Homo sapiens: one gene and its partners. The protein of the gene in region 6 purifies or fractionates together with the protein of the main gene of each other region. This does not show direct contact. Each region holds a gene or a part of one and is shown on either strand. Other genes may lie near its edges.

Evidence for each region.
Region 1: the proteins of MRPS9 (region 6) and ZNF557 purify together in Homo sapiens (co-immunoprecipitation; one large-scale study listed by IntAct). This does not show direct contact.
Region 2: the proteins of MRPS9 (region 6) and NUP42 purify together in Homo sapiens (affinity purification with mass spectrometry; one large-scale study listed by BioGRID and IntAct). This does not show direct contact.
Region 3: the proteins of MRPS9 (region 6) and ZNF223 purify together in Homo sapiens (co-immunoprecipitation; one large-scale study listed by IntAct). This does not show direct contact.
Region 4: the proteins of MRPS9 (region 6) and ZKSCAN5 purify together in Homo sapiens (co-immunoprecipitation; one large-scale study listed by IntAct). This does not show direct contact.
Region 5: the proteins of MRPS9 (region 6) and ZIM3 purify together in Homo sapiens (co-immunoprecipitation; one large-scale study listed by IntAct). This does not show direct contact.
Region 7: the proteins of MRPS9 (region 6) and ZNF577 purify together in Homo sapiens (co-immunoprecipitation; one large-scale study listed by IntAct). This does not show direct contact.

What each region holds. Positions count from the first base shown.
Region 1 is NC_000019.10:7,079,703-7,083,202, reverse strand, and holds part of ZNF557 (zinc finger protein 557), read right to left. Parts: intron 1,844-3,500; coding exon 1,748-1,843; intron 1,234-1,747; coding exon 1,151-1,233; intron 326-1,150; coding exon 1-325. UniProt on the Homo sapiens protein: May be involved in transcriptional regulation.
Region 2 is NC_000007.14:23,195,548-23,199,047, reverse strand, and holds part of NUP42 (nucleoporin NUP42), read right to left. Parts: intron 3,210-3,500; coding exon 3,133-3,209; intron 2,369-3,132; coding exon 2,282-2,368; intron 1,876-2,281; coding exon of another isoform or gene 1,801-1,875; intron 1-1,800.
Region 3 is NC_000019.10:44,065,268-44,068,499, reverse strand, and holds the end of ZNF223 (zinc finger protein 223), read right to left. Parts: intron 2,437-3,232; coding exon 1,223-2,436; 3' UTR 501-1,222; downstream 1-500. UniProt on the Homo sapiens protein: May be involved in transcriptional regulation.
Region 4 is NC_000007.14:99,528,662-99,531,930, reverse strand, and holds part of ZKSCAN5 (zinc finger protein with KRAB and SCAN domains 5), read right to left. Parts: intron 824-3,269; coding exon 1-823. UniProt on the Homo sapiens protein: May be involved in transcriptional regulation.
Region 5 is NC_000019.10:57,138,703-57,142,202, forward strand, and holds part of ZIM3 (zinc finger imprinted 3), read right to left. Parts: intron 1-3,500. UniProt on the Homo sapiens protein: May be involved in transcriptional regulation.
Region 6 is NC_000002.12:105,093,569-105,097,068, reverse strand, and holds part of MRPS9 (small ribosomal subunit protein uS9m), read right to left. Parts: coding exon 3,431-3,500; intron 18-3,430; exon of another isoform or gene 1-17.
Region 7 is NC_000019.10:51,877,952-51,881,451, reverse strand, and holds part of ZNF577 (zinc finger protein 577), read left to right. Parts: exon of another isoform or gene 1-495; intron 496-574; 5' UTR 575-773; intron 774-1,050; 5' UTR 1,051-1,069; coding exon 1,070-1,129; intron 1,130-2,936; coding exon 2,937-3,063; intron 3,064-3,500. UniProt on the Homo sapiens protein: May be involved in transcriptional regulation.

The DNA of each region.
Region 1 (3,500 bases), on a different chromosome or scaffold from region 6:
GGTATGAGGAATTGCTGAAGGTTTTCCCACAGTCACTGCATTCGTAGGGTTTCTCCCCATTGTGGATTCTCTTATGAACAGTAAGGTAAGATCTGCTGCTGAAGGTTTTCCCACAGTCATTGCATTCATAGGGTTTCTCCCCATTGTGGATTCTCTTATGAACAGCAAGGTAAGATCTACTGCTGTAGGATTTCCCACATTCACTGCAGCCATAGGGTCTTTCTCCAGTATGAATCTTCCTGTGCCGTGTAAGGGAAGATTTTGTGCTGAAGACTTTAAAACACTGATTACATTCGTTGAGTGTTGCTCCAAGATGATTCCTCTCCTATTGATTAAGAGATGACAATAAGTACCATTTATAATATTTTTAACATTGAATGCTGTCAGAGGAATTTCCTCTCCCAGGAATTCTGTTGTGTATCATAGTATTGGAATTAATGTTTTTGCCATCATGAGTGCTGGTACATGGCTTCTGTCAGTTTGAATTCTTAGCATTTAAAGAAGATGGATTCTTTCTACAAATCTTTATCATATTCACAGAGTATTTTTGATAAATTTAAGGCTAATTTCTTTTTCAAATATCCAATATCTGACTCAGACTACTGGAAATATTTACTTGTGGGAATTCTCAGGAAAAACAAGTTTGGGGCTAACTAATGCTTTTCTCCAAATTCAAAATAATTTCACAGTATCTCTCCAGAGGTACTACTTTATCTTTGAAAAAAATGACACTTTCCTTTAATAACTATTTAATAAAGCCACTTTTTTTTTTTTTTTTTTTGAGACAGAGTCTTGCTCTGTCGCCAGGCTGGAGTGCAGTGGCACAATCTCGGCTCACTGCAAGCTCCACCTCCAGGGTTCAAGTGATTCTTCTGTTTCAGCTTCCCAAGTATTTGGGATTACAGGTGCGCATCACCACACCCAGCTAAGTTTTTTTTGTATTTTTAGTAGAGATGGGGTTTCACCGTATTGGCCAGGCTGGTCTCCAACTCCTGACCTGACCTCATGATCCAACTGCCTCAGCTTCCCAAGGTGCTGGGATTAAAGGCATGAGCCACTGTGCCTGGCCAACAAGGCCAGTCCTTGTGGCTTTTCTCATGTAGGGCATTCTACCATGAAAAAAACCAGGAATCACCCATGTTAGTCTTACCATTTTCATATTTCTAGATTGTTCTTTTCGAAAAACATGCAGCTTAGGAGTTAACCCTTTGGCTTTAAATGGATTCTCCACATCTGAAACAAGTTAAAAAGAAATTTAAGTTGATAGAAAAGAGGCAAATTTTAAGTTGATGGTGAAATAGTAAAATGCATACGTGAGTGAAGGCAGAATCTGAGAGGTGAGGGTTTTTGAGAAGGCATTCGGTGAAAGAGATATGGGTGTGAAAATTTTAGGCAATGTTTAAGAAAGACTCTAGGAAGATTGAGATTGATGTTGACAGAATGAAGGAATTGTCAGGAAGGCAAGGTGGACTGAAACTGATCAAAGAGCTCATAGGAGACTTAAATTTCAGAAAAAGAGATGTCTTTTTTTCTCCCCTGAGGCCCAAGTAAAGTATGAGATGACAGAAAGTTGGAAGTCATGAAGGTACATGAGGGGGCTCAGACCAAACGTTCTTGGCCTTCTTGGGAAAAGGGGCATTTACACAGTTCTCTGACTGATATTTCCTAATGTATTATAATACTCCCAACTTCTCAGTCCCTGGCCAGAGCTGTTCCTCACAAGGACTTATATCCACCTGGTGCTCACCTGGACAGGTACCTGAGAGAATTCCTCTCTCTTCTGTCATCACTTTATCTTCTTGCTCCAGCTGGGAGATCAGCCTAGGTTTATCAACTTGGTTCCCTGTACATGGAGAAAAGACACATGATGTAGGGGGACTGTGCAGCAGACAAGCTCTCCCATGAAACTGAAATCAGTTCTGAAGGTGAAGAGGTGTGACTTCAGGAGCAGAGAAATAATTATGCCAAAATTGAATAAATATAGCAACCGTCTTAAACACTCACACACACACACACACACACACACACACACACACACACACACACACACACCCCACAAGCAATATCTAGGGTGGTTGCAGGATAACTGGTCCCAGGAGCCCCTGTCCAGGTTTAAATACAGAATCTGAAAGCCCAAAAGATTTAACTACAGAGAATATATAGTCAGGGAAAGAAGGAGATCTTCATTTCATACAGATAGCATTAGACAGACAGCTCCATGAGGGTGGGGGGCATGTCTGTTGCATTCTTCACTACTCCCACATCCCAGCACAGACCTAGGAACAGAGGTGCTTATGAAGGACTTAAACGAAGTAATGTCAGTGAAGGTAGTGGAGTAGGGAACTCCACAACTCCATCCCTTCACAAAAACAGTATGTAAATGGGCAAACACAGAATCAACTTCATTGGAGCTCTTGAATGTCATCAAAAGTTTACAGCCACAGGAGAATGCCTAATCAAGACAAACAGCTGAATCTGGGTAAGAGAGATTTGTGACATTTTAACTGACTCTAGCTGCACACTCTATTCCCCATTTTGCCTTGAGGACAACAACCTGTGTTTCTAGTGCTGAAGGGAACAGAATGCACCTTATTCTCAAAAACCTGTGGCTGTTCTCTTCTGACCTGTCTGCTGGCTCCCTGATGGGCTGGATCAAAGGGCTTCCCTTTATTTGTGTAACTCCAAACTCTCCCAGGTCTGAAGAGGCTACACCTATGGAAGCTGGAGGGTGGAGAGGGAAGTGTGTCCCAACACATCTAAAGGCAAATCAGCCACTGCTCAATGGGGCAAGGGAAAACTGTGAAGCAAACAAAAGACTAACCAAAAAACCTGGGAGGAGAAGTTGGGAACAAGATGCTCTGAGGAGTAGAGCATCTTTCCACACCTTCTTTTCCCCCACAAGATGGAGTCTTGCTCTGTCGCCCAGGCTAGAGTGCAGTGGTGTGATCTCGGCTCACTGCAACCTCCACCTCCTGGGTTCAAGCAATTCTCCTGCCTCAGCCTCCCAAGTAGCTGGGATTACAAGCATTTGCCACCACGCCTGGCTGATTTTTTTGTATTTTTAGTAAAGATGTGGTTTCACCATCTTGGCCAGGCTGGTCTCCAACTCCTGACCTCAGGTGATCCGCCCACCTCAGCCTCCCAAAGTGCTGGGATTACAGGCATGAGCCACTGCGCCCGGCCTCCACACATTTCTAGAAGGCCATGCTCATACCCAGGGATGAACACATGCTCAGAGAAGATCTGAGAAGGCACCAAGCCCTCACCTTTGACTGACCTTCAGGCTCTGCATAAGAAGGAACTGAAGGCTAAGTCAGAGTTGTAAGATGCTTTAGCTGAGTTTTGAAGGCATGCTCCAACATGTAATTCAGATCCATTGGCAAAGACTGGTCATCTTTTGGGTTCCAGGTATTTAAAAAAATCTCTGACAAATTAATCCCAAGCTGAACACTAAGCTAACAGAACAGAGACTTCAGTGGCCACACATGACCAATACAGAC
Region 2 (3,500 bases), on a different chromosome or scaffold from region 6:
GGATAAGACATAATACTGTATAAACAGTATAATCACAACTAGTAATATGAATATGCATAAAAAATGTACATTAGTAAGTTAACAGTGATTATCTCTGGCTGATAAATTACAGGTGATTTAAATTTTATTTATGCTTTTTTATACTTTCTAAATTTCTACAATGAGCAGATATTATAATCAGAAAAATATTTTTAAATTTTTTTCAGTGTCTATAAGGGTAGATCTGCATTTATCAAGAAATCTAGATATTAGGTAAAAAGGACCTTTATAGAATACCCAGTCTAATACTCGAAGTAGATCCACTATTATATAATTAAAAGCTTATGACTAAAAATCCATTAAACATTTCCCATTCCCTGAAAGTACTTTATGTTCTTGCTGTTCTGTGCTCTAGAAATGTCTTTCATCTCTGCTTACTGAAATCTTAATCCTACTTTCAAGGAACTTTGTATTTGCTCCTTCCTTTCAAGAAGACTTTCTTAATCATCCAAAGCAAACATAAGCGATTTCTTTCATTTGGAAGCCTCAAAAGCATTCTTTGGCCGGTGTGGTGGCTCACGCCTGTAATCCCAGCACTTTGGGAGGCTGAGGCGGGCGGATCATGAGGTCAGAAGATCGAGACCATCCTGGCTAACATGGTGAAATCCCGTCTCTACTAAAAATACAAAAAAGCTGGGCGTGGTGGTGGGTGCCTGTAGTCCCAGCTATTCGGGAGACTGAGGCAGGAGAATGGCGTGAACCCGGGAGGCGGAGCTTGCAGTGAGCTGAGATGGCACCACTGCACTCCAGCCTGGGTGACAGAGTGAGACTCTGCCTCAAAAAAAAAAAAAAAAAAAAAAAAAGAATGCTTTTGTTTTTGAGACTGCAACCTCTCCTGGGTTCAAGTGATTCTCCTGCCTCAGCCTCCTGAGTAGTTAGGATTACAGGCGTGTGCCACCATGCCTGGCTAATTTTTGTATTTTTAGTAGAGACCGGGTTTCACCATGTTGGTCAGGCTGGTCTTAAACTCCTGACCTTGTGATCCGCCTGCCTCAGCCTCCCGAAGTGCTGGGATTACAGGCGTGAGCCACTGCACCCAGCCCTCAAAAGCATTCTTGCTCCTGGTCCCTGGCAACCACTCTGTCTGCTTTCTATCACTACAAATGAGACTTGTCTTTTCCAGAGTTTCATACAAATGGAATCACATGGTCTACACTATTTTTTTTTTTTTGGTCTGGTTTCTCTCCCTCAGTGTAATATTCATTAACAGGCAGATGATAAACAAATTATATCCATACAATGGGTTACCATTCAGTATAAAGAAGGCATGAACTCCTGATACATGTTAAGTCAGCTATGGGTGGGTTGTCCCACATTCTAACCTATGGAAGGGGCCCTGGGCAGTTAGCAAGGAGCAGGGACCTTCCAGCCCTGAGGGAAGTTCCACAGTTCTTTGGACTCAGTTATCCTTTCTCCATCAGCTCTCATCCATGGTGATGGTGGGCCACCTCTCACACAAGGACAGACTACTTCCAAGAGGTCCCACTAAATTCAAATAGCATTACAAGAACTAAAAGATGAAAGAAATTAGCTTGCACAAGAGTCTAGTTATTCAGGAAGCACATATTTAAGAAAGGGGTGGGGTGTTGGGACTGTCAACCATTCACTAAGTGTAGGGAGACATTACTCTCATATCCTTATACAGAGTAGAAACCATCTGAGAAATTGGAAATATTAAAATTATAAATGTGAATATCTTATTTTAAAATAAAATTCTTAAGAACTTTTTAATGGGTGTAGAAACATCATAACTTTATTTACAAAGATAATGAACTTGCCACAGTCGGGACCATAGATCTTTGGAGACAGGTGGGTATATATCTTCCAAAGGCATTTCTGTTTAAGACAAGGAACATACTGTGTTCTTCAGTCGCAAAACGATACATTACATTCTAAATGTGCATTCATATAACTGTTCAAAGTAATTTCTTTTTACATACAGATAACCTTAAATACTTAAACTTATGTAATAGTTTGCCATTTTCAAAACTAGCACTACCAAAGTTAAAAACTTTACCCTAAAAAGCTTTTAAAAAGCATAACTATTTCTGCTTTTCTGACCAAGGAACACAGAGAAAACTATTTCAAGACCCTGACTCTTAAGTGATGCTATTTTGGGAATGTGTGTATCATAATTCTTGATAGAAAATTTTTGTTTTGCTTTCCAAATCTAAAGTAAAATATCCTCTGCAAAAAAGCAATAGGTAAGACACTTCCCTCAAGAAAACTCTCCCATACTCACCAAAGCTACTTTAGTTGATATATTTAGACTTTTCAGTTCATTTACCCTGTTCCTCCATTGATTTATTAAACGTTGGACAGAATTTAGCTGAAAACGGAAGACAGAAAAATAACAGTTCAATATTGTATGTTTAAGTTAGTTTCTTCAATAAAAACTTCACATACTTCTTTGCCAAAATCACAAAAGGTTTATGTAACAGTTTTATGGCCCATGACTTGCAAAATTTGCATTGACTTGGCCTATTTGTCAAAGATATGCCAGCTCCAGTTCCCTCTCCCGTTCAACTCCTTGTATCATCTGGTTAGTATCACAAGTACCTGGCAGCACGTAGTTAGTTATATTTGGATGGGCGGTGAATACATGTACTAGTTGAAATGCATGATCATGACTGTAGAAACAGAAAAATACAGCATTTAAACTGCTTCCTTCAGGTACTCAACTTATTCTAGTCAAGATTTTTAATTTTTTTTGATATTTGATATATGAGGATGTTAATCTGTATTACAGACTGTATCTTATTTAACTTTGTTTTTCTAGCATTCATCACTGGATTGGTACCTAACAGATGTTCAATAAATATCTGTCAAATGATAAAAGGGTTTCATTTCTGGGATTGACTGTTGGGTAATTTATAATAAAAATAGTAATATTCCTAATTATTAAAGTAAAAATATATTATCATTTTAATAACCAACCAAATTCAATGAAAATAATATAGAAAAGAAAAATAGCCTACTCCTGAAAAAAGATCATAGACCTCATCGGTTTTGCCAAAACACAAGCCACGATAAAGAAAGCAGTAATTAAGAGCTCATCTGTTATTGCAGTAGATTAATAGGAAACAAACTTACATAACTCTGTAAGTTATTGCTGGTTAAGAAGTTATGGTATTCAAGCCTCAATTCCTCTGGTGAAATGTCTGTAAAACCTGAAGTGAGGAATCAATCGGAATCTTTAAAATAAATGCCAATAATTTTGATAGTAAAGCTAGAGGTGCTAAACAAGAAAATATCTAATGTTGATTAGAAAATTTTCATAACCATGAGGAAGAAACTTAAAGCCTACACTCTACTTAATGTTTAATAAAGTGTAAAATTACAGTAAAATATAGTTGGTTATTCTGATCTTTAAATGGGGAAGATTTTCTAAAGATAAGTGGCGTAGAATGAACAACAAACACAGGAGAAAGATTTGACTACATTTATATTCAAACTTTTAT
Region 3 (3,232 bases), on a different chromosome or scaffold from region 6:
TTTAGCTGTTACATTAGGTCACTGATGAATTTTGAGTTAACTTTTAAGTGTAGGGTGAGGTACAATCTAACTTCATTATGTTGTGTGTCTGTGTATAGGTGTCCCAGCAGTATTGGTCGAAGAGACTATTCTGTCTCCATAAAGTAATCTTGGATCCTTCTTGAAAATCAAGTGGCCTTAGATGTATGGGTTTCTTTATGGACTCTCACTTCTATTCCATTTGTATATATATCTGCCTCCTGGGTTGAAGCGATCCTCCCACTTCAGCCTCTCCAGTAGTCTCCAGCTGGGACTACAGACATACACCAACACAACTGGCTAATTATTGTATTTCTTGTAGAGATGGGGTTTCTGATGTTCACTGAGAAATCTAAAAATAATGCATACAATTATAAAATAGAAAAATACCAGCAAATATTCACTGCTGAAGAAAATAAGAATATAATTGTAACACACTATGTATGTACACTCAAAAAAAAAATTCCAGAAACACAGAGAGATGCTTGTCTAGAAACAAAGAAAGGTATTTATTTAATTTTTTTTTTTGGAGACAGGGTCTCACTCTGTTGCCCTGGCTGGAGTGCAGTAGCACTACCATAGGTCAGTGCAGCCTCAATCTTCCAGACTCAAGCAATGTAAGGATGCAGCAAAAATACAAAGACACATGTGGCTGACATTCTAGTGGTCATCAATTTTGACATGTTCATCATTAGTGTTTTGAAAGTGTGTGAACAAACTCTTATACTAAGACCTGTCTCCTGAATAATAACTAATTGTCAAACTTCTGTTAGAAACCCTGCAGCATTCTCTGCTCTGACAGTCCCACGACCACTGGGGTATGCTGAGCTATGGCTGAAACACTAACTTCAAACTGTCCTCAATCACATGGGGAAGCTTAAAAAGCTGATTTCTTAGAAGTAGTGAGAACAGTGGCTCTAGAGGCAGGGAAGGGTAAGGGATAGGTGGGATGGCCAAAGGTTGGCTAATGGATGCAAAAGTACAGGTAGATAAGAGGAAGAAGTTCTGCTGTTCTGCAGCACTAAAGGTGACTATCATCGACAACAATTTATTTTCAAACTGCTGGAACAATGAATTTTTAATTTTCTCAACACAAAAAAGAGATAATTGAGGTGATAAATGTGCTAATTACACTGATTTGATCATTATACATCATATACATATATTTAAATATCACACTGTACCCCATAAATATGTACAACACTTACGTGTCATTTAAAAATAATGATAAAATTATATCAAGATTCAAGCGCCTCTTGTAGCGCTTCCCACAGTCTTCACATTTGGATGGATTTTCTCCACTGTGGTTTTTTTGTTGGTCTTTACGGTATGACCGGTATACAAGCTTCTTTCCACAATCCTCACATTTGAATGGTTTTTTTCGGCAATGGAGTCTCTTATGATTCAAAATACTTGAGGCCTGTCTAAAGCTCTTCCCACAGTCATCACAGTTATAAGGTCTCTCTCCTGTGTGGGCTCTATGGTGCAAGTCAAGACCTGACTTAGTAATGTAGCTCTTCCCACACTTGTCACATTTGTATGGCTTTTCTCCAGTGTGGACTCGCTGATGGATCAAAAGATAGGAGGACCGTCTGAAGCTCTTCCCACATTCTTTACAATTATATGGTTTCTCTCCTGTGTGGATCGTCTGATGCTTACACAAATCCAGCCTACGAATGAAGCCTTTTCCATATTCCCCAGTGCTGTTTGGTTTCTTTCCTGTGTGGACCACACAATGCCTATTAAGACTTGACCTAAGACGGAAGCTCACACTACATATCTCACATTTGAATGGCTTCTCCCCTGTGTGAATTCTCTGATGTTTCTGAAGCTGGAAATCATGAATGAAGGCCCTCCCACATGCCTCACAATTATAATGTTTCTCTCCCATGTGTAATTTGCAATGAACTGTAAGTGCTGATCTACATCTGAAGCCTCTCCCACATTGTTCACATTTGAAAGGTTTCTCTCCAGTATGGACTCTCTGATGAGTTTGCAGATGTAAACTCTGACTGAATTCCTTACCACACACGTCACACTTAAAGAGTTTCTCTCCCAGGTGGACTCTCTGATGAATATGAAGCGCTGAGATGTAACAGAAGCTTTTTCCACACTCATCACAGGAATGAGACTTCTCTGCTGAGCGTATTTGCTGAGGAAGATCAAAGATGGACATATCACTGAAGGATTGTTTACACTTCCCACAATTGGAAGGTTTCTGTCCTGTGTGCATTATAGATAGTCCTTCCTCAACCTGGGAGTGGGCATCACCCTGTTCAAAGAACTGAGAGCTCTTTATGGTAGAGTCTTGAGGCCTGGTTAAATCACTTGCAATTTCTTCCCAGATCTGCTGGCAGGACCACCCTTCATGTGGTCCTGCTTCTGGAAAAGTCTTCATCTCAGGTTGGATCTTGCCTCCTATCAGAATACAAAATTAAGAGATCAGGACAAGCTATGCCCTGTTCAGTGTTTTTAAGAGTTCACACTTAGGACATGGTATGAAACTTCAACGAATGTTCAGTTTGTGTTTTCCAAGTGCACCCTGGTTTCTGGTTTGCATGAGAGTAATCTAAAACCATACCATGTCACTGGGGACGGTGGCTCACACCCATAATCCCAGCACTTTGGGAGACCAAGGCACTTTGGGAAGCTGAGGCAGGCAGATCACTTGAGGTCAGGAATTCGGGACCAGCCTGACCAACATAGTGAAACCCCGTCTCTATTAAAAATACAAAAATCAGCTAGGTGTGGTGGCACACACCTATAATCCCAGATACTTGGGAGGCTGAGGCAGGAGAATTGCTTGAACCCAGGAGGCGCAGGTTGCAGCAAGCCGAGATCGTGCCACTGCACTCCAGCCTGGGCGACACAGTGAGACTCTGCCTCAAAAAAAAAAAAAAAAAAGAAAAGAAAGAAAAAAACATACCACATTTCAAATAAAAAATCATTGATAGAAATAAAAGGTTTAATAAAAAATTAATATGACACATACATTTAACCTGTTACTGTTTTTAAAATTTCCAACTCAGTCTGAAATTTTACATGATAAATTACTAAACTATTATGTACGTAATGAAATATGAATCAAAAGGAACTCTAAGGGAAAGCAGTAACATAATAAATACTTCGTATATTTGCCTGTATATTATATATCCTTATAAAGAAGTTAACCTTCCTTTCAGTTTAAGATGGCTTAAAAAACATTTTTAAAAAT
Region 4 (3,269 bases), on a different chromosome or scaffold from region 6:
TGAATGAGGTCTGAGCTATAACCAAAGGCTTTTCCACAGATATCACACTGATAAGGCTGCTCTTGTAACTCAATCTTCTTGTCTTCAATCACTGTCAAGTTCCAACTATATGCTTCCTCACAGATGCCATTTTTTTCATTTTTCTGACCCATGTGGAGCACCTGATGTTCAATTAGGCTAACGTACTGAAAAAAGATTTCCCCACATTCACGACACTGATGGGATTTCTCTCGGGAGTGGAGTCGAAGATGTCCAGCCAGGTGGGAACGCCTCCCAAAGCCTTTCCCACATTCGTTACACTTGAAGGGTCTCTCCCCACTGTGCACGCTCTGATGCTGAACAAGGTGGGACCTCACTCTGAAGGCTTTCCCACATAAGGGACAGGTGTAGGGCTTCTCACCTGTGTGGACGCGCTGATGCTGAGTTAGGTGCACGCGTTGGTTGTAGCTTTTCCCACATTCCTCACACCTGAATGGTTTCTCCCCAGTGTGTATTCTTTGATGTTGAATAAGATGTGCACTCTGAATGAAGCTTTTCCCACACTCGTTACATTTATGTGGTCTCTCTCCAGTGGAGGATTTTTTGTGGACATATGGGACTTCACTGTAGTTCATCCTCTTTGAAGATGGTTGTCCTAGTATCTCTTTCATGGGAATTCCCTGCTTTCTATCCAGCTTGCCTTGAAACTCACAGCCTTCTCCAAAATCTTGAACTTGAGAAACATTTCTTTGGGTTTTTCCAGATAGTTCCATGTCTGCTTCTGAATATTCTGAAATTTTCTTCTTAACACTTAATTTTGTGTTCTTACTTCTTTTGTCACTGCCTAAAAAAAATAAAGAGCAAGTGAAAATGTCATCAGTTCTTTTTTTTTTTTGAGATGGGGTCTTGCTCTGTCGCCCAGGCTAGAGTGCAATGATGCGATCTCGGCTCACTGCAACCTCTGCCTCCTGGGTTCAAGTGATTCTCCTGCCTCAGCCTCTCAAGTAGCTGAGACTACAGGCGTGCATGACCACACCCAGCTAATTTTTGTATGTTTAGTAGAGATGGGGTTTTGCCATGTTGGCCAGGCTGGTCTCAAACTCCTGACTTTGGGTGATCCACCCGCCTCAGCCTCCCAAAGTGCTGGGATTACAGGTTTAAGCCACCGTGCCTGGCCCATCAGTTCTTTTATAAAGGAAAAATAAACTGTCATAAAAAATGTTCATCAGATGAAACTATGATGTAACGGGAGTAACAGAGGTGGATGTGTGTGTGTACTTGATGCCAACAGGAATGTAAACAACAAACTTTTGGAATTTTCTGACGAAAAGAGCAAGACTCATCCACAGGATGGCAGAAAATATTTGCAAACTATGCATCAGACAAAGGACTAATATCCAGAATCTACAAGTAACTCTAACAAGTCAACAAGAAAAAAAAAATCCCATCAAAAAGTAGGCAAATGACATGGAGACAGTTCTCAAAATAATATATACAAATGACCAACAAACATGAAAAAAATGCTGAACATCACTAATCATCAGGAAGGTGCAAATTAAAGCCACAATAAGGTACTGCCTTACTCCTGCAAGAATGGCCATTATTAAGAAGTCAAAAGGCCGGGCGTGGTGGCTCACACCTGTAATCCCAGCACTATGGGAGGCCGAGGCGGGCAGATCACCTGAGGTCAGGAGTTCGAAACCAGCCTGGCCAACATGGTGAAACCCACATCTCTACTAAAAATACAAAAATTAGCTGGGCATGGTGGCGGGCGCCTGTAATCCCAGCTACTCAGGAGGCTGAGGCAGGAGAATCGCTTGAACCCAGGAGGCTGAGGTTGCAGTGAGCCGAGACTGCGCCATTGCACTCCAGCCTGGGCAACAGCAAGACTCCATCTCAAAAAAAAAAAAAAAAAAAGGCCGGGTGCAGGTGGCTCACGCCTGTAATCCCAGAACTTTGGGAAGCCGAGGTGGGTGGATCACGAGGTCAGGAATTCAAGACCAGCCTGACCAAGACAGTGAAACCCCATCTCTACTAAAAATACAAAAATTAGCTGGGCATGGTGGTGGGTGCCCTGTAATCACAGCTACTCCAGAGGCTGAGGCAGAGAATTGCTTGAACCCAAGAGGCAGAGGTTGCAGTGAGCCAAGATTGCGCCACTGCACTCCAGCCTGGGCAACACAGCGAGACTCCATCTCAAAAAAAACAAAGAAGTCAAAAAACAATAGATGTTGGCATGGATGTGGTGAAAAGGGAACGCTTATACATTGCTGGTGAGAGATAAATTAATACAACTTCTGTGGATAACAGTATGGAGACTTCTTCAAGAACCAGAAGTAGATCTGCCATTTGATCCAGCAATTCCACAACTGGGTATATCTACACAAAGGAAAAGACAATATACCAAAAAGACTGTAAGCGCCTGTCTTCTGCAGCACAATTCACAACTGCAAAGATATGGAGCCAATCTAAGTGCCCGTTGAGCAATGAGTTGATAAAGAAAATGTAGCAGGCTGGGTGTGGTGACTCGTGCCTATAATCCCAGCACTTTGGGAGGCTGAGGCAGGTGGATCACCTGAGGTCAGGAGTTCAAGACCAGCCTGACCAACATGGTAAAACCTCATCTCTACTAAACATACAAAAATTAGCAAGGGATCGTGGTAGGTGCCTGTAGTCCCAGCTACTCGGGAGGCTGAGGCAGAAGAATCGCCTGAACCCAGGAGGCAGAAGCTGCAGTGAGTTGAGATCACATCACTGCACTCCAGCCTGGGTGACAGAGTGAGACTCCATCTCAAAAAAGAAAAACAAAAAACAAATACATAACTGGGTGGTGAGAACTGACAAAAACTGGAAGAATGAGAGTGAAGGATGATGAAGAGGGTATGCAGTCAGGGAATATCTGACTAGGAGTCAGGAAATAAGGCAAAATGAGCCAACAAGAAGCATTGTCAGAGGGTGGGTGATACAGCAATCCCTGCCCCCTTCACCCTTAGCCAACATTCTAGCCTCAGTTTTCCTCCCCCGGCATGTCATCCTTCTCCTTTGGGAATGCTCATCACCTTTACTATCTGCTACCCCCACCAGACCATCGGCTGCATGAGAGCATGGACTGTATCTCTGTTCTGGTCACTGCAGATCCTGTGCAACTAGCAACACAGACTCTCAATAATATGGCTGGATGTGCAAAACATGTATTCCCCCTTTGATCCAGAAAAATGAGGGAGGACCGGGCATGGTGGCTCACACCTGTAACTCCTAGCACTTGTGGAGGCCAAGGCTGGAGGATCGCT
Region 5 (3,500 bases), on a different chromosome or scaffold from region 6:
TCACTCTACTCTGGATGAAAATAAATTGTGCCCAGAGGATCTTGCCAATGAGCCATAAACCTTAGACCTACTCATGACACTGCCATCTTTCTCCACCCTCTAGTCCCACCAATTTTACTTCCTGAATCTCAAACCCAGCCATTAGTTTCCATCTTCTCCACCATTCATAAATCCACCTTGTCATCTTTTACTTAGAGTAAGGCAGAGGCCGAGTATGGTGGCTCACACCTATCATCCCAACATTTTGGGAGGCCGAGGCAGGAGGATTGCTTGAGGCCAGGAGTTTGAGGCTAGCTGGGGAACATAGCAAAACCCCTATCTCAAAGAACATTTTATTATTTTGGCCGGGCACGGTGGCTCACACCTGTAATCCCTGCACTTTGGGAGGCCGAGGCGGGTGGATCACCTGAGGTCAGGAGTTCGAGACCAGTCTGGCCAACATGAAGAAACCCCATCTCTACTAAAAATACAAAAAATTAGCCAGGCATGGTGGCAGGCGCCTGTAATCCCAGCTACTCAGGAGGCTGAGGCAGGAGAATCACTTGAACCCAGGAGGTGGAGGCTGCAGTGAGCCAAGATTGCGCCACTGCACTCCAGCCAGGGCAACAAGAGCAAAACTCTGTCTCAAGAAAAAAAAGAAAAAGAAAAAGAAAAGAAAAGAAAATGTTATTATATTTTTTTTCTATTTTCCATTTTTCTTTAAGACATCCTGCCTCTATTAGAAATTCTTTTTTAAATAGAGGCCTGGCATGGTGGCTCACACCTATAATCCCAGCACTTCAGGAGGCTGAGACAGGTGGATCACCCGGGGTCAGGAGTTCGAGACCAGCCTCGTCAACATGGTGAAACCCCATCTCTACTAAAAATACAAAAATTAGCCAGGTGTCGTGGTGCGCGCCTGTAATCCCAGCTACTCAGGAGGCTGAGGCAGGAGAATCGCTTGAACCCTGGGAGGTGGAGGTTGCAGTGAGCTGAGATCACACCACTGCACTCCAGCCTGGGTGACAGTGAGACTCCATCTCAAATAAATAAATACATAAATAAGTAGAATAAGCCAATAGCCCCCTAATTCTTCCAGCTACATCTAAACTGACTGTAATCTATTTTCCACAGTCGACATTCAGACTGGATGGTGCGCTCCCCTAATTTATCAGCTTTCCTTGCATTTGGGAGAAACAGGTGACACCTGTTACAGGGGCCAGCGTCTGGCATGTCTACCACACTCCCACTCACACAGGGTCACACAGCACTCCCCTGGGTCTCTCCTGCAGCCATACTGGACTTACGGCAGCATTTTGCCCCTGCCACTCAACACTCACAGTGTTGGAAGTCACACTTGTAAAGCGAATTCCTTTGTCAGAAACTGAAAATCTCACCTCTAAGAGCCAGCACCTAGTGTCCTCTTGGACAGATAAATTTTTTAGTTGTGTTTGTGCTCTAGCTCGCTTTTTTAAAATTTTGTTTATTTATTAATTTTTTTTGGCGGGGAAGGGGACAGAGGCTCACTCTGGTAGCCCAGGCTGGAGTGCAGTGGCACAATCTCGGCTCACTGCAACCTCCACCTCCTGGGTTCAAGCGATTCTCCTGCCTCAGCCTCCTGAGCAGCTGGGATTACAGGCGCGCACCACGACACCTGGCTAATTTTTGTACTTTTAGTAGAGACGGGTTTCACCATGTTGGCCAGGTTGGTCTCAAACTCCTGACCTCAAGTGATCTGCCCGCATCGGCCTCCCGAAGAGCTGGGATTAAAGGGATGAGCCACCGCACCCGGCCTTTTTTTTTAAATTTTTGACACAGGTTCTTGCTCTGCCACCCAGGCTGGAGTACAGTGGCATGATCATGGCTCACTGCAGCCTCAACCTCCCAGGATCAAGCAATCCTCCTACCTCAGCCTCCAGAATAGCTGGGACTACAGGCATGCACCACCATGCTAAGCTCATTTTTTATTATTTGTAGACAGGGTCTCACTATATTGTCCAGGCTGGTCTTGAACTCCTGGCCTCAAGTGGTCTTCCTGCCTTCGCCTCCCAAAGTGCTGGGATTACAGGTGTGAGCCACCACACCCAGCCTTAGTATGCCTTTCCTGTCAACAGGAAATTGGTCAACAGGCTTAATTTTAACAATTGCAAAGAAACTACTATCTGCCTAACTGCATACAACTTATCCTTGGTCTTTCAGCTATCCATAATTTACTTTGATTCCGACTGGTACTAGTTAATGATTTTTCAGTTTATTGTGTGGATTTACAGAATTTGTTTCAAATACACACCGAACAAAGTTGGGAGAGGACACACATTCAAGACACCAATCATTTAAAAAATAGGTTGGGGTGAAACACACATGACACTGTTACATCTCAGGGCTTAGCAGTGGACCAGGTTTGTAAGAGCAATGGTCAAAAGATGCTTGAGGCTGGGCGTGGTGGCTCACCCTTGTAATCCCAGAACTTTGGGAGGCTGAGGCGGGTGGATCACCTGAGGTCAGGAGTTCGAGACCAGCCCGACCAATATGGTAAAACCCCATCTCTACTAAAAATACAAAAATTAGCCGGGCGTGGGCGTGGTGGCGTGCGCCTGTAATCCCAGCTGCTCAGGAGGTTGAGGCAGGAGAATCGCTTGAACCTGGGAGGTGGAGGTTGCAGTGAGCCAAGATCAAGCCATTGCACTCCAGCCTGGGTGGCAGAGGGAGACTGTCTCAAAAAAAAAAAAAAAAAAAAAAACAACAAAACAAAGATGCTTGAGCTGAAACCAGCCCAGTAATCCCATAGACAGTTGTGGGTTTTTTGTTTTTTGTTTTTGTTTTTGTTTTTGTTTTTTGGATAAACATAGAAATTGACCCTTCCGCTGTTAAAGCTTGAAACCTGTATTTGTTTTGTCTGAGTTCCTTCCTCAGGAAAAGACCTTCAGATCTCTCAAAGGCAGGCAGATCACCTGAGGTCAAGATTTCGAGGCCAGCCTGGCCAACATGGTGAAGCCCCGTCTCTACCAAAAAATACAAAAATTAGCCAGGAGTGGTGGTGCGCACACCTGTAATCCCAGCAACTCAGGAGGCTGAGGAAGGAGAATCGCTTGAACCTGGGAGGCAGAGGTTGCAGTGAGCTGAGATTGCACCACTATACTCCAGCCTGGGTGACACAGCGAGACTCCCTCAAAAAAAAAAAATCAACTGAAACTCACCACAACTGAAACTCACCACAACAGATGTCTCCTTGCCCCCTCCCTAGTCTTGCTTTCTTACACATTGTTATATTTCTTCCATGCTGTATAAACCCCTAGTTTTAGTGAGTTAGGGAGATGGATTTGAGGCTGAGCTCCCATTTCTTCACCTACGGCAGCTGATTAAAGCTTCTTCCTTGGCAATACCCATTGTCTCAGTCATTGGCTTTCTGTGCAGCCAGTAGCAGGACCTAGACCAAACTCCTGGTGTTTCCGTAACCAAGCTTTTTTTTTTTTTTTTTTTGAGACAGGGTCATGCTCTGTCACCCAGGCTGGAGTGCAGTG
Region 6 (3,500 bases):
AACAATATTCTGCATGCCACTGTTATACTTTTCATACTTCTCAATCAATCCATTTTACCAAGATATAGAAACACTAACATTTCTGACATTTTGAATGATTTGCTGAGAGATTAAGATTTATTTCTTTTGCTTGGGTATAGCAACACACTCTTACTGTTTGCTGATCCCCTTTATCTCAGAAGATCTTTTCAAAGCTTGAAAATAATCTCGTAAAGAAGTCTTACAGTTGGGGAACTCCATTAATCAACTGAATTTAATGTCTCTGGATTGAATGATCAGATATAAAATCAATAGGCCTTTCCAAACAATTATCACATGTCATTTGGATTCACTAAATAAAGTCTACTATAAGTGTATCTGTATAATGTATAATGCTCATCTTGATATGGTTAGTTTTTAAAGTTTCTAAAACTATTTTCGACCTTGCACTTCCCTGACACCAAACACCTATTCCCAATATTCTTAAAGTTCTCTAAATCATAGGGTCCTGCTACCTTCCTGGGGCCAGGTGACATTCTACACAACCCCTGTCAGGCCTGCTCTTTCAGGGTCGGTCAGGGCCTACAAGATCCTGGGGCAGGCACCACAGACAAAACACGGCCCTGGACTTTCTCCTGCTCAACTGAACAAGTATTTGTTGAATATCATTTTCACGCCAGGTAAGATGTTCACCATTACCTCTGTCAAGCACTTTGATTTTGCTATTTTGCCTTAATATCTTGCTACACTTTTATGCAGAAAAGCTCACTTATATTGCGTTTGCTTTCTTTGATGCTGTAGCTTCTAGACCCAAAATCAAGTTTATATAACACAGTTAAGCTGAGAGACAGGTATGGACAGGACATTCAAGTGCTATTCTTCATACCACACTAGTAAAATAATCACAAGCAGATGGGCAAAAGATGACTTTCAAAAGCCATAGCAAATCGGAATTTATAACAATACGATGTAGGGATGACATAACTCCTACAACAACAAAAAACTCATAAATCTATACTGTCTTTTTGAACAAATGCTTCCAAGAAACCAAATGAAAAGTAGCCATAAGTTATAAAAACAGTATTATAAGTAGTATCTATTAATATACTATGATAACTAAAGAAAATTTAAGCTGAGCACCTAAAGTACAAGCTACTCAGGAGGCTGAGGTGGGAGGACTGCTTGAGCCCAGCAGCTTGAGTCCAGTCTGGGTCCAGAAGTTTGAGTCCAGCCTGGGTGACATAAAGAGACCTTGTCTCTTAAAAAAAAAAAGTAAATATAAAAGAAAATTTAGGCTGGGCGCAGTGGCTCATGCCTGTAATCCCAGCACTTTGGGAGGCCGAGGCGGGCAGATCACCTGAGGTCGGGAGTTTGAGACCAGTCTGACCAACATGGAGAAACGCCGTCTCTACTAAAAATACAAAACTAGCCAGGCATGGTGGTGCATGCCTGTAATCCCAGCTACTCAGGAGGCTGAGGCAGGAGAATTGCTTGAACCCAGGAGGCGGAGGTTGTGGTGAGCCAAGATTGCACCACTGTACTCCAGCCTGGGCAACAAGAGCGAAACTCCATCTCAAAAAAAAAAAAAAAAGAAAAAAAAAATGTACAGACTGAAAATCTAATTCCACTATTGCATTTACCTCGACCATCTGGCTCCATGACTCAGTTATATATCCAGTAATTACATTATGAAATCTATTTTTCTAGATTTTAATTGAAGTCTCTTTTTATTTATATAAGCATTTGTTAAAGAATCATAAAATTTTAAAAATTAAGCCAGGAAAGTGTTTAAGCTCCCAAACAAATGGCTGTCCAGAAGCCTCCCTTGTAACTTCACTTACGTGGCTAACCCACTTCACTGTGTGTTAGGTGATGACAGAATTCCGATCAAGATCCCTGATTCTGGGTTGGTTAGTCTTCCTATTAGTCAATGGTCACCTCACTGCTGATTTGTAAGTTCCTGAAGTGACTGCCCTAAATCCTTACAACTACTTTAAAATAGTTGTAGGTGCCCATTCCCACCAAGACTAGGCTTAGGCTTCCCAACCATGTAGGAAGTTTCTTGACAATAGGAATCATATCTTAAATATCTCTGATATCTTCACAATGCCCAGAACAAGACTGGAGACATAGATGTCCTTAGTAAAAAGCTGCTGAATTCAAACCAAAGAATAAGATCTAAAGATGTAATTTCATTATGAGATCAAGCCAGAATTGAGACTTGCTGTTAAATCATCAGGAGTTATGTCTGAATACAAATCAACAGACAGGTTATTGGTTAAAGAACAGTCCTCCTATAGTTCCCAATGTTGAAGTTATCAAACCCTGGGGTATGGGTTTCTCTCTGGCTTTTCCTAAGGGAAATAAAAGCTTCTTCCATCCCCTGTCCTGTGAGGATAATAGCAGAACTAATTCATCTTAAATGGAGTTAAGAATGCACTGCTTGTTGACACAGGCACACACAAATAAAATAAACACACATTTCCTAAAATAATTATTGTGTCCAGAAGCTTACACTGTATTAGGAGGGTCCTCTTTTGCCTATATCAGCATTGGTATCAAAAGAGTTTTAGCCCTTTTGACCTTAAATACCGTAACACATGCAGGAAACAGGAGAAGGATTAGGAAAGGAGGAACTAATCATACCAAACTTCTGTTACTCGTGGATAATGACAGTAAGTACTGGGAAAATAATAACCATATCAAGAAGAGGCCTTTATATAGCAAGTCAGAGAGAGTTCTGAGATGAGTATATTTAGATTAGAAGAGCTGTAGTATCTATTTATGATTAATGTCTATTTCTCCATAGGATACAAAGTTTAAAAATTAAAACTGCCATATTTAGCACCCAGAACTAAGCAAAGCCTGATGAGTTCTTATTTTAACCCATAAATGCTAGGTTTCTTTGCTTGCTCAATATATATAATCACATTCCTCTGAATAGGAAAAAATCCAAAATGATAAAGCAGAATTTTTCTAATATTTATGATCAGAAAAACATACACAAGCCACAAGAAATTACTTGCACTTTTCTTTGCCTTGTGAGTTAGGTCAGTTTTAAGTGCCAAGGCTGGTTGTTGTGGTGGTGGTTTTGTTTTGTGCACGCCCATCCCCAAACTAGAAGGTGGAAATCTAAATCAAAATTTTTTACATTTTGGCACAGTCTGCACTTCAGAACATAAGCTACATCTAAGACTACTCAAACTGCAGTAGGATCTGATGAAAAGGGGAAGAAGAGTCAATTAATGAGGAATTCTAGAGATGCTTTTTAAAAAATCTGGAAGCTGCTTTAAAAAATAGCTTCAATTAGCTAGTTTGATATGTTACATTGGTAAAGAGAAATAATCATTCAGATAAACAGAATTAGAAGATCACAAGCCTTCTTAAATGATCATGATGTATTATAAAGTATGTTTCCTTTAAAAACAAAAAATCAGAACCCAAAACGAACCTGTCCTGTGTGATCGGGAAGTAAAGCTGGTAATCAATTCCATTTACTTTTATTCTTCCACTTCCATGTT
Region 7 (3,500 bases), on a different chromosome or scaffold from region 6:
GGTTTAGTAAGACAGTGCTTATGGTTTGTATGATTAGTAAGACAGTGCAATAAACCAAAAATTTAGGAGCATGTGGCTGCCGGTGGTGATTTTAAGTCAGTTTCTTGAGCCACCACTTCTTTTATGTTTTTATTCTTAGAGACAGAGTCTTGCCATGTGTCCAGGCTGGTCTTGAACTCTGGAGCTCAGGTGAGATCCACCCATCTCAGCCTCTACAATAGCTGGAACTCTAGGGCACATGCCACCATGTCTGGCTTTACCACTTCCTTCATTGTCTTACCTAAAACTGATATATGTGAGAACTTGGCAGTGGACAAGACCATAGGTGGTTTTTGTTTACTTTCTCCTGTTTCACATCCACTCTATTTCTGACATAACCAAAAAAAAAGGCATTCCTCTTGCACATTCCATATCTTCCTCTGGATCACTGCCCCATGATGTAATGGCTTCCAGGGTGTTAAGGAGACAGATGAAATATTGGAACCTGATGTTAATGTGAGTCCAGATGGCAATTGGAGACTTGTGATCCTAGGAGCATGTCTTCTTATCATTGAATTTGGTCTTGAATCCACAGGTTCTGGCCTATAGGAACAAGACATTTTCAGTAATGGAAGAAGGAGCTTCCAGGCTGGGGAAGATCATCATTTCCAGTGGTAGCTTGACCTGAGATGATACCTGACCACCACTTCTGGGAAGGCCCAGAATAGACAGAAGAGAGAGAACATACTAGAGTTGCTAGCCCCTAAGAGTTGAACGAAATGGGCAAGGCCCAGGTGAGGTTTGTTTTACCTATTTTGTCGTTTGTTTCCCAATGGGTCTGTGGAAGCTTGTAAAAGACAGTCTGGTTAAATGAGATAGTGTATGCTGATAAAAATCAGGATCTGTGGGAAAATAAGTTTAAGTTGGAATCTTAAAATCCTGGCAAATTAAGAAACAAGATATATGGATCAGGGGGTTTGTGAAAGTTCTTAATGTCGGAACATAGCTAAGTGACTGTTAAGACCCTGTGGGTTTTCTCTGCTTTAAACTGTGTCTCCTTTTTTTTGGCAGCTGAAATAACAGGAAACACATGAAAAATGCCACGATTGTAATGTCTGTGAGGAGAGAGCAAGGCAGTTCTTCAGGGGAGGTAAATTTGTCATTGCTGTGAGAGCTTGAGAAACTTCTTTCCTTCAGAGAGCTTTTGTGGTTGACGGTATCCTCAAAGTCAGCCTTGTAATAAAGGCATGGGATGTTTTCTATGGCTTTTTCCTGTTGTTTAGTGGGGTAAGCTAAGGAGTAATGCCAAAGGAAAACTGGATTGGACAAAATTCTTCGAAAATAGCGTGCCTTGAAAATAGAGGCTTCTGGTCATCTGACTTTGCCCAGTGATAAAGCCTGGAGTATCCAGTAGAATGAATGGGCTGCTTGACCTTTGAATGATCCTCCCTGAAGAAGAATTCTCTCATCCAGATTTTTGTTATTGAGACAGCAGGAGACAATTAACAGCTCCATTCTTTGGTAACAGCTTGGAATGCAGATACTGACAATGCTTCTTTCTTACCTTCTTAACTCCAGGTTCAAAAAACAAAGCACCAGTTCGGCTTGTTTTGCTTTTTCTATGTTTAATTACTGAAATGATACATGGCTACATTTGCACGCAAGAGATTCAAGCAAACAGAAGCATTTGTATCAAAAGACAGTATCTCCTTTCACCCTTTTTCTGCCCAAACTTCAACCCAAAGGATACTAAATAAGTGTTCATAGTTTGGGTCTCTATCTAGTTCCTCCCTGTGATTGACATCTGGTAGAATATATTCATATTTATGTACATTTATGTATACATACTTGTGTATACTTATACATATGTAATTATAAATATTATTACTTTTTTTCTCCCCCCAAGTTGGAGTCTTGCTGTGTCGCCCAGAGCTGGAGTGCAGTGGCGCAATCTTGGCTCACTGCAACCTCTGCCTCCTGGGCTCAAGCAATTCTCCTGCCTCAGCCTCCTGAGTAACTGGGATTACAGGTGCGTGCCACCACACCCTGCTAATTTTTGTATTTTTAGTAGAGATGGGGGTTTCACCATGTTGGCCAGGCTGGTCTCGAACTCCTGACCTCATGAGCCCCCTGCCTCAGCCTCCCAAAGTGCTGGGATTACAGGCGTGAGCCACCATGCCCAGCCATATTATTACTTTTTTTTTTTTTTTCCTCTTGAGACGGAGTCTTGCTCTGTCGCCCAGGCTGCAGTGCAGTGGCGCAATCTTGGCTCCCTGCAAGCTCTGCCTCCCGGGTTCATGCCATTCTCCTGCCTTAGCCTCCCAAGTCGCTGGGACTACAGGTGCCCACCACCATGCCCAGCTAATTTTTTGTATTTTTAGTGGAGATGGGGTTTCACTGTGTTAGCCAGGATAGTCTTAATCTCCCGACTTTGTGATCTGCCCACCTCGGCCTCCCAAAGTACTGAGATTACAGGTGTGAGCCACCACGCCCAGCCGTATTATTACATTTTTAAAATATGTCTTAGATCATATATTATTTGGGAGCTTAATTTTTTGCATTTAAGAGACTGCCTTGGAGATCATTGATAATCATGTGGGTATGTATACATCTACCTCATTGATTTTAACATTTTTGCAGTATATTATAGCATGGAGGTGCTGTAATTTAACCCTGTCTGCTTTTGATAGACATTTAGATTATTGGTAAGTTTTTCATTATGAGAAACAAAGGAATAATGAACAGTCTTATTACATGTTGTTTCATATCTATGCTAGTACTGCCTTCGTGCTTTTAGGGTAGGCAGAATTGGTGGAATTCCATGGTCCTTTGGTATGTGAAATAGCCATGGTGTGCATACGTTGTCATGGAGAAAAGGATCAAGACATGTCCCCGTCCCTCTTCTCCGCATCATCTATTGTTATCCACCTCAGATTGCATTGGAATTGTTATTATAGGGGTCATTGTCATTCGAAGATGTGGCTGTGGGCTTCACCAGGGAGGAGTGGCAGTTTTTGGACCAGTCTCAGAAGGTCTTGTACAAGGAAGTAATGTTGGAGAACTACATCAACCTAGTATCAATAGGTAAGGACAGCATTGCCGTCACTTACCTTTTCTTTCTTATTTGGTGACCACTGTACGGTCCCATAAATATTTAATGGTTTAGACTAAAGTATTATATGTTATAGATTTTTTGTTGTGGTGGTAAAATATATAACATAAAATTTACCGTCTTAACCATAAGCGTGCAGTTCAGTGGGTTAAATGCATTCGCGCACATAGTGTTATGCAGCCACCAACACTACCTTCTGTCTTCTAAAACTGAAACTCTGTACCCACAAAACAACAACTACTCATTCCCCCACTTCTCCCCAGCTCCTGGTGACCACCATTCACTTTCTGTCTTTAGGATTTTGACTTCTCTAAGTACCTCGTATAAGTGGAATTATATAGTGTCTGTCTTTTTGTGTCTGGCTTATTTCACTTATTATGATGTTCTCAAGGTTTATCCATGTTGTAGC